Regions from separate parts of the Homo sapiens genome. Here region 2 is linked to region 1. A link means that fine-mapping ties the variant in region 1 to the expression of a gene that starts in the linked region. Tissue or cell type: tibial artery. Region 1 holds a variant in brackets; the other region holds the start of a gene. All regions are shown on one strand. Distances are between the middles of the regions.

Region 1 (5,389 bases):
CCAGGAGGCGAACCCTGACTACCATTTAATACCACAGTCTGCCCTTTCCCCATCCTTGCAGAACACCATTAACCTACTCTGTGTTTTCTTGTCCACAGTACCTATCATTGTTTAAGATAGTGAATAATTTATTCATCATGTTTAGTGTTTTTTATCTGTCTCCTTCCACAAGAATATAAGATTCACTATAGTACAAGTACTTGTTCTGTTCAAAGATGTATTCTGAGTCTCTAACTCAGTATCTGGCACATAGTGCTAAGTATCTGTTAAATGAATGAATGAATTTGATGCTGTGGTGATTCTCACTATGTTTAAAAATCATAGTGGTTGCTTATCTTAGAAATACATGTTGGACAATTTACAGAAATTTTTCAAAATATCTATGCCTGGGGGGAAATGCAACTGAAATGTGTTCACTTTTACTTCCCTCCATGTATACGCCATAATCTTACCCAAAAGCAAATCACAGGCTGGGAGTGGTGGCTCACGCCTGTAATCCCAGTACTTTGGGAGCCCAAGGCAGGCAGACCACTTGAGTTCAAGAGTTCCAGATCAGCCTGGCCACCATGGTGAAACCCCATCTCTACTAAAAACACAAAAATTAGCCGGGCGTGCTGACAGGTGCCTGTAGTCCCAGCTACTCAGGAGGCTGAGACAGAAGAATCGCTTAAATCCTGGAGGTGAAGGCTGCAGTGAGCTGAGATCACATCACTGCATTCCAGCCTGGGTGACAGAGAGACACTCTGTCTCAAAAAACAAAAACAAAAACAGAAGTAAATCGGATCGCAGAAAGAAATACCTCATCATACCCTTTAAGGGAGTCTCTTACATTGCAAATATTCCATCACAATTATTCTTATAAAATTACAATTCTGATGATAATCTACTGAAGTTAATTTAATTGCAAGGATGTACGATGTTGTTTCTGATAAAGAATGATCTTCTACCAAAAAAATTCATGCCTGTTACTTTTGTTGCCTGGAGAAAGAAACACACACACACACACACACACACACACACACACACACACACACACTCTCTCTCATGTAAAGTTTTTCAATCATTTTAACCAAGAAGTCAATAAGACCAATAAGATTATTCTTCCAAATGAATCTCAAATATTGTTCTACTTATAGTCTCTTAGCTGGTTTTTTGTCATTTTCATATACCTGAAAATAACCTGTAAGTTATATGGAAATTTGCAATGTGTTTTATGGTGAAGTCATTTTGTTTTTTATCACTAACATAGCAACACTAGTTTCTAAGAAAACAGAATTGATACTTCCTCTGAGTGCACTCTGAGTTTTATACAATACTTACAAGAAATAATGAACAATTTCTGGCATCACTGGAGGGGTGTAAGTGATTTTACATGTGTAAGTGATTAGGAAACTGAATGCTGAATTCTCCCAGAGCTTATCTTTTGTAATATGGAAAATCAAACCTCTCCTACATGTGATATTTGTCTTAGTAATCATGGGAACAATTAACTGTGCTTACAATTGGCTTCATAGCAGCAGCAGCAATGAGTTGAAGTAAGGTTAGAGAATTAGATTCATATTGTTCCTTATGGAGATAACCCATTAGTAGGGCCTCTAAACAGGCAGTGCATTAATATGAAGACAGTGTGAGGGGGAAAATATCAAGCCACATAAAATTTGTTGTGATAGAGAAAGCTTGCTGAGTGTCATAAAAGGCTGAGGAGGTTTATCCACGTATGGATACAAGTATCATCTATTGGGGGACAAAACACAAAATAAACTACTCATGCAACGTTGTTGATTTAATAATAAATATTTTGAATGTATTATATTTAAATAAAACATAAATATCTCAAGTGAAGGAAAGATGTTGCATATAGAAGTATTTGCGCACACAAGAAGTGCCCACGTTCCTTCACTGTCCATCCACGAAGTACAAATTTTACCATCAGCATATAAAAGAACTACAATCACAGCTTATTGGTCACTATAAATGTAGCACAAATCACTACACCTCATTCTCAAAATGCCACTGACTCAATACTGTGTGGATCAGACCACTAAAATGCCTCCACACAAAATCTCAACCTCAATTAATAAAATGAGATGTTAATAATGTCTGTTTTATTGGCCTGAAATGTAACACACCTTCTGGCATTTTTATTTTCTTAGAGACTAAACCATAGCAAGGAGTTTGTGATCACTGTATAGCGCTGAGTGAAACCTCAAAATACATTCTGGAATTTGTAAGGGATGCTTTTTTTTTTTTTTTTTTTTTTTTTTTGGTATTTTCACTGTCAATTATGCCTCGTATTATTTATTTATTTGCCAAAATACGACTGTATGAAAAAAAGCTACCTCATAGAGCTCATGACACATAATAGGTATTCACTGAGCATTTGGTGATTTGTTAAGCACTCACATCAATAAAATATTTCAGCTCAACAGGCACACTAGGGGCCAGATGAGCACTGACTTTCCCCATTGAGGAGTCTCGATTACCTCATGTCTCACTTCAAACAATTTATTTTTCTTGTATGCATAGCTGGGTTCAAGAGTTCTTTCTTGTTTTAATTGGATATATTCTTTTTCTTTTCTTTTTGTAAGTCCTATAATACAGTAAAGACATCAAATAGAACCCTTTTAGAGTTATGTGGAAAACTTTTATATATAAATATTTTATTTGGACAGTTTTCACATAAAAATAGACATATGAAAATTTAAAAAAGAAAAGGTCCTGATGAGGAGGCTCCTATCAGAAAGTGACATTTACCTAAACCCTCTTATATAACAACAACAACAACAACAACAACAAACTAAAGGTAAATACACCTGAAAGATACAAAAGAGGATGCCATGAGATACACCTGAATCTCTGAGGAAACACGTTCTCTCTCTTTCATTAGGTAAATTGCTTTGAATGACTTCTTTCATGTTTTACTGTTATATACCTTTATATTTTATCTCTCAAGCATTTGTTAATACGCCACAAGCTATCCTATATGTGCTTTTTTTATACTTAGCAATGAACACAAAATGCATTCATTAACAAATAATTATACCAAATCAACAGCCTCCTTCTAAAATTAAAGGAAAGGGGTCTGAAAATGTTGCTTGTGACTAAGCAGGTTACGTCACACATGGAATTTAGATTCTGTTCCAAATCTGAGGACAGAAGCACACACC[T/A]TAGCAGGACCCCTTATTCCAATCACAAAAAGCAGAACCAGTCCCAGGAGTGTCTGTGTTTGAACTGTGCTTGATCTGGGATACTTTCAAACTGAATCAGAGGTAACTCATCTGAATTATCAAACAAAACTAATTATATAATCATAATCTCCTAAGATAAAAGTATGGGTTTTCCCTTAATACATGAACTTTTAAGATCAGGCCTCTTACTTCCCCAGTTGGATTTTTGCATACTCAGACATAAGGTCACCACCCTGTCTTTGGAATGACATTTTGTGTTTTTGTCCTATGACTCACCCATGCTTCTTGCTGTTCCTTCCATTCTGGACACAAATGAAGGCTCACAATTTGCCCTAAGGCATGTTTCAAAAGCAGCTTTACAGTGATTCACTGCCCTTTGGTCCTTCAGAGTATCAAAGCACATCTTTAAATCATGAGCAAAAAAAATGAGCACATCTTTAAATCATGAGACTTCAACAAAATGCAGTCATACCATTAATTAACTCATAATTCACAAGAATCATTGCTCAACTTTCATTTTTACTTAGCAGTCATTACTTCCCACAAGAAATGTTTTTAAGAGTCTGAACTAAGAGTGAGGCACTGTGATAAATCCAAGAGGTCGTTTCCTAACATCTAGGGTTTAAGTCACTGTCATGGCCACTTTATGAGCAGAAATTCCATTTTGGCAAAAATACTTGTTAACATGGTACATTTTCTTTGAATTGCATTAGTTTTGAATTTTAATTCTAATCTATTAATAAGCTCATTTTCATTTTATTGTTATAAAAAAAGTGAAAGCCCAAGAAATTTACCCGATTTTATATGCAGACAGATGTAAATGAAATCTCATACAATCAACTTGTTTCTCCTAAAAGATGTGAAATATTTAAGACATAACTATCCATCTGAATTTCCACATTTTATAGGTAATCTCAAAATTGAGATTAGTCCAAAATCATGAGTCTCTTAGTGAAAGCATCAAGAACAAGTTTCTTGACTCTAACATAGAGGACTTTTAACTACATTGTCTCTTCCTAACCGCTACAAAAATGTGAGACCCTCATAACTAACTTATCAAACATTAGATACTCTGTAAATATATCCGATTTTTTTAAAAGACTCCTATGATTCAAAAGGATGAATAAATTAATGAAACTTTTTACAGACTTCTGTATTGACAATTCTGTAGTGAAGATAAGTAGCAAATATTTTCCATCAGTCTAAACAGAAGAGGCAAGCAGAGGGAAACTTCAGCTTTTGAGGGAAAGTGTTGATGCGAGAATGTAAGCAGTTCACTCTCATACAAACAACGGCTTTGTCTGCCATGGAAGCTAGTGCAAGGTAACCAAGATGTAAACTCTAAACACATGTTCAGCAGAAATAGTAAAGTGACTGTTTCTTTGTAGAAGAATTTCTTTATGTGTTTATTACTGCTTTGATGTACACCATAAATTTCTGCTTAAAGGTCACAAGATTGTGATAACAAATCAAAAACCAGGTTGTGATAATATGTTGACGGTGTAGGAACACTGTGTAAAGAACTGGAGAATAATAAACATTAAGGCCAGTACCGGCATTTTAAAAATACAGATTAGATGCTCTTAAAAAATCTTCTAAAAATATTTGGTTCCCACAAAGTACAAGCAAAATATTTTACTGTTGAGTAGAATTCATTCTTTTTATGAAATCCTTGTACTTGAAAGCTTTCATAAGATTATCGTTTTGTGATGACATTTCTCTTTAGAATGAGACAAGAAAGACAATTCTTATAATTAAACGTGTTAACTGGTTTAATAGTTTTGCAACTCAGGATTTTTCCCAATATATTGTTTCTGAAGCAGAGTATCACCTGATGTCTGAAATCTAATACCTTTTTTTGTTTGTTTGTTTTCAGACATTTGGAAGATAGCTCTTCTCTACATTTTCCCCCTCTTTTATCCCTAGGTAAATTGTTTAAGGAATAGTTTTTGCCTTCTTAAAAAACCTGGATGACTGGGCTTGGTGGCTTACACCTGTAATCCTAGCACTTTGGGAGGCTGAGGTGGGCGGACTGCTTGAGCTCAGGAGTTCAAGACCTGCCTAACCAACATGACAAACCCCATCTCTACAAAGAAATGAAAAAATTAGCCAGGCATGGTGGTGCATGCCCATAGTCCCAGCTACTTGGGAGGCTGAGGTGTGAGGATCCTTTGAGCCCACAAAGTAGAGACTGCAGTGAG
Region 2 (5,389 bases), 37 kb after region 1:
GAAGAAAAACACTGATACCCAAAGGAAAGCCCAATATTTTAACGGATCTTCTCTCTAGAAATCCATTACATTAAAAAGACTTGAATAGAATTGAGCTAAAAGAATATTACTGGATGAGAACTCTTTCCCCCCACTAACGTAACAGCAGCAGCAAAATCTCACATGAGCATTCATGTGTACCTACTCACTTCAATAGTCATTAGCTCTTTTGGAGTAATTGTCTCTGGAAGTGGTGTTTCCTTACATAAATCTATGTGTGCTCAATCCTGGATCACTGAAGTCACTGGAATCAGTTATCTGCCATTTTATCCAGATGACCAACAGGCAGTTGTTAAATGATGCAGTTGAAGTAACCATGGACTAGTGCCAAATTCAAACCAATGACCTAGTGGTGAGCAATCCAGTGAGCCATGTATCCACCAATGCATATTTTAAATAAATCAACCAGAATGTGGGCTGTCAAAATTCCCAAAGATAAATCAAAGAGACAGGTGTCACTGCTTCAAACTATAGATATAAAATTGGTACATGCTATTAACTAATATCTGAATCCCAAGGAAGACCAGATAATGTGTTACCATAAACCTACAGGAGCTCTAGTGGCTACATCATGTAAAATAAACTCAGGACCATTAAAGAAACACAATCATTTTGCTTCTACCATAATTACACAATAAAGTGACCCAAGAGTCCAGTAAAGAAATTTATTTTTACAGGTTACAACAATGCTGATCTTCATTATTTGGCTTTTCAAATTAAAATTTCATAGTCAAAATTATTAAATTCTTTGTAAGAACCACTAACAACTGAAAAAGACAGCTTCATTAATACAGAATAAAAAGAATTAAATGGAATATGCAATTTTAAACAAAAATTGTAAGTAGATTTCCTAGGTGGTGCATATGTTATGAGAGTTAGAAATGAAATTGTACGCTTCTTTTACCACACAGATGGAGGAAACTCTAGAGATGTTTGTGTTGGTAATTTTCAAAAGAAACAGTTTCTTCCTGCTTCCACAACCTCTTCACCCTGTCATCCCTAAATTAACTTAGAAAGAAACTGATTTTATGGGTGACTTTCCCTCAGTAATTTACCCCTTGGTTCTGTTGACTTCATAGTTAAAGCCAAAAGAAAAAAACTATTAATATGCCTAACCTTTGTTATGTTTACTGAGCAAGTTGATATTATTTACACATTTTTTTTACATATTGGTATCTTACCTTATATGTTTCTCCCAAAAGTACATATACAACCAATTGCAAAGAATACTGGTGATACAATGGCAGGTGAAACGAAGATAGTCTACAGGGCAATTTGATTTACATCCCACCTAGTGATGAGGAGTGAAAGACTGAAAGCCAAGTGTCTTAAATACACCCCCGCCTCCCCAACAGTATCTTACAACTTCTTCCCTTTAACTCAGACACAGACGTTCCTCTTGGTGTTTTCACTTCTGCTGATCGCAAACTAACAACACATTAAGAAAAGAATTCTCTTATCTCCTCTGGAGCAATTTTGCCTTTGAAGGCACTGTAATACTCAACTTGAAACTCTCCGCAGGTGTCACCGCCTAAAGAAACAACTCGAGCAGGGCTCTCAGCAAGGGGAAAGCTTCCCTGACAAACCGCGTGTGTTCTTAAGAAAATGTCCAGGCTTGAGCATACCAATGTATGAAAAATCAATATACAGGCCAAAAAAGTTATACTTTGCTAAATCTGTAATGCGGAAAATGACCAATTTAGCTTACCGAGGTTGAAAGAAATCAGCACGGAAAAGTCATCAGTTTGCTACCGGGGTTGGATGCGCTTGTGTCTCCAGTCCTTTTCCCAGACGACCTTATTTTCTAGCACGTCGCAAAGGTGAAATTCTTTCTTCCCGGTCCTCTGAGTTTCTTTGTAAAGGAATCTCAGCGCTGCAGTGCCGCGGCACCCGGAGCTCTTCTCCGCGTCGCTCAATCAAGCACCTCGGAGTGAATGGAAAGTGGCCGGAGGCCGGGGGCGAGCGCTCTTGGTGTCCGATTACAGCGCCGCGGCGCGCGGCTCCGGCTGCCCCGGCGCGCCGCCCTGCAGGCTCGCATCACCACCGCGCAGCCCCGGCCGCATCTCCGCCAGCCGCGAGGCCCCACCCCGAGCGCGCCCGCGAGAGCCTGGCAGGGAGCCGCGGGGGCGGACCGGGCGGGGCCGACCCTTAGAGCTCGCGGCTGGCCAGACGCAAGAATGCGCGGCCGCAGGCTGGAGCCCTAGCTCCGCAACCCTGCTCCTTTCGCAGTCCGCGGCGGAGTGAGCAACTTGCTGGGTGCGCTCCACGGTTTTTGTTGCCGGCGGCTCTCGAAGACTTACACAGGCTTTGCCTGGCCGTAAATATCAAAGTGCAAAGCAGTTGTGGTTTTTTATTTTTGCCAGGGAAGGATCACTGCAGCCTTTTAAGGCAAAGAGATGCGTTTTTAAAAGGACGTGAGTTTTGTCCTTATTCTGCTGCGTTTTTTTTTTGTTTTTTGTTTTTTGTTTTTTGTTTTGTTTTTGGAGAGGGAATCTCACTCTGTCGCCAGGCTGGAGTGCAGTGCAGTGGTGTGATCATGGCTCACTGCAACCTCCGCCTCCCGGGTTCAAGCGATTCTCCTGCCTCAGCCTCCTGAATAGCTGGGACTACAGGCTCCCACCACCACGCCCAGCTAATTTTTGTATTTTTAGTAGAGACAGGGCCAGGATGGTCTGGATCTCTTGACCTAATGGTCCGCCCGCCTCAGCCGCCCAAAGTGCCGAGAGCCACCGCGCCGGGCCTCTGTTGCGTGTTTTCTAAAACAGGTCAAGATAAACGACAATCTTGTTGCACAAGTGTATCCTTTTAATGGGTATTGTTTCCTATTGAGTTTCCTTAATGCCCTGAAAGCAGTAATTCTGTTGACCCCTCCACGTTGACTCATATCCAGTACGTTGTCCCCAACCATACTCCCAAACATAATTACACGAAGAAATTATTTGACAATTCTATGTGGAGAGGCTGTTCTGAGTTATGCCAACAGATTGCCATAACCACACATCTACAGAAATACATCAGAGGTATTTTTCCAGCATTACTTTCAGGTACACTCGTTAAACTCTGGAACTGACTTTGATGTTTAAGTGAAAATTACTTCTCCGGACCACAATAAACTAGATGTTTAAACATCGGGAGAAATGAGCTTTGATCCCCATAAAACAAGCAGGCACTTGCTTAAAATCACTGTGGGGCACAGCCCAGCAGATGTCACTCTACAGAAGGAACGTGGAGTGTAATATCTCCACCTTATACCTGACAATTCACATAATGAAACAATCATTAAATTCTTATAAACTGTATCATAGAAAACCCCTCTGGGGGTGCAAAATCATTGTTCAGTGGGAAAGTTGAATGAAATCTCAGGTAGGAGGAAGAGGTGAGTGAGACACATCTTTCATGTGTCTGGGGCCCACCTCTTGTGTTCAGTAAACATACACGTGTCTCAGACTCACGCTGCATAGTCAAGGAACGAAGGATCAAGTCAAATAATGCAAATTTATGAGTTCAAAAATACTATTCCAGGGCTAATATTATCTCCAAACGTCAAAAAATTAATATAGTAACAACAGTTAAAATTATTTTTTGTGATGATGCGTGAGAAGATCCTTGACATAAATTTGTAATAAGGAATTTAACCCCCCAAAAACTGACAATATTAAAATCCAGATGTCAATGTGAATAAGCACTGTGCGTGCTTCTCTGAAATACTTCTGAAACTGAGTAAGATCCAGGTTATATACTCTCCACTATTATCCTCCTTCTGATATCTCATTCGGCATTTATATATTAAGCAGGGAGAAGAATAAATCATTAGAAAGATGAGTGTGTGGATTAAATTAATTTAGAAATGTGGAGCTGTTAGAAATTGATCAGCAAATTCACGTAAGATGGAATTCGTTTATACATTTTAAGTTTGAGAAAACCACGATAAAGAGTTGCAAGATGAAATGCATCTCAAACGGTGTATTTACAAAGGAGCTTAATTCCAAACTCAATTTACAAACACCAATGAATTAGCTCAATCTGTTACACATTCAGGGGTTTGGAGGCCTTGACAAATAGCTTAGATTTAATCACAGCCCATGAAATTTGTGCCGAAATTCCCTCAATATTGCTCAAATAAACCTCTTTTCAATGTGCTCCTGGGATTTAATGGTATTTGCTTAGCTCTGAGACGTTTACAGTTGGCCACACCTCAAAATGAATCATAAAAATACTGATAGGCTTTAGCCAAGATAGATTCAAGCGCAAGGACACAGTGCTCATGCTTGCCAGAGACTTAGGCCACAGAGTGGAATTTTAACAGTGGCACTAGAAGCCCCTAAGATTAATCTCTGCCCACATTTCCCCACACTGCTTAAAACACCTTGACAAAACAAGACTTGCCTAAGAAACATTTCTGGGCACTACCACTTTTTTAAGACTTCAGCTTTGACTGTCCTTACAAGTGGAAAACAACAGCTAATTGAGAACGCTGTTTTCGGTAAGGGGGACACTAAATGGATCTACAGGAGTAGTGGCACAACTAAATTTAGAGAGCACTAATTACAATGTTTGCACCCAGCAAAACGTTTCAGACGAGCGGCCAAACTAAAATACTTAGGATAACTTTTATTAAGACGTTTTAGAAATGGTGCAGTATCTTACACACTGAAGTGTCTCTGCCTGCCAAGGTGTAGTGGGCATATTTTTAATATTTTATGTTTTTGATGGTCCTGAGGAATGCTATTTAACTTAAAACTCTAGCACCGATGTTGAGTTACATACTTTTCTCCAGGAGTTTCTGCAGCTATACATTATCTTATTTCAAATTTAAAGAAAACAGATTTTTCCCTATTATACAGATGAGTCATGTAAATAAACTTTACCCTAACCAGAGAATATTAATCATTCAGAGGTTAAAAATTGTCTTATTATTTAGTCATAAAAACTGATATTTGTAATAGAAAATAGATTGTGTATTTGCGAGGTACTTTGCTTATTATCTGCATAGCATTCTTTAATGAAGTTACAATTTTCAATGAGAGAACGTTGAAGGTTTGCCCAAAGTCAAATGGGTAGTAAATATCAGAATAGGAAGAGAAACTCAAGCGTGATTGCCGTAATGTCTCAGGTTTTTCAATAAGTTTCAATACTTCCTCTTACCTTTTTTGCTTAACATTTTTCTCCTCTTTTCTACTTCCCTCTCTTTCTCCTTCACTCAACTTCCATATGCCATCCTTTTAAGTTTCCTGAACTGTATCTTTGGAAAGTCTCAACTTCCAATGGTTACTTACTTTATTTACATCAGCCTTACGTCTCCTTGGGTTACATTAGCAGCTCTGAGACCAAGCCGGTCAAACAGGTCTGG

Which allele goes with the higher level. Alleles are on the strand shown, and positions count from the first base shown. SD is a standard deviation of normalised expression in the study named.
For the expression in tibial artery of the gene that starts at base 1,971 in region 2, A is the high allele of the variant in region 1 and T is the other (moderate effect, 0.50 SD a copy in GTEx).

The links.
Region 2: SEMA3C starts here. The variant in region 1 is fine-mapped to the expression of SEMA3C in tibial artery (GTEx, PIP above 0.99).

Annotation. Positions count from the first base shown.
Region 1 is chr7:80,880,175-80,885,563 of GRCh38, forward strand. All of the region lies in intron 2 of SEMA3C (semaphorin 3C), which reads right to left. Among named protein-coding and RNA genes, the nearest start is that of SEMA3C, 36 kb to the right of the region's middle. RefSeq lists an enhancer at 3,123-4,322. The variant T/A (reference allele first, on the strand shown) is at 3,168.
Region 2 is chr7:80,917,081-80,922,469 of GRCh38, forward strand. SEMA3C (semaphorin 3C) reads right to left here and starts at 1,971. Exons shown (of 18, transcript NM_006379.5): 1 at 1,748-1,971. RefSeq lists an enhancer at 1,491-1,560 and a silencer at 2,108-2,237.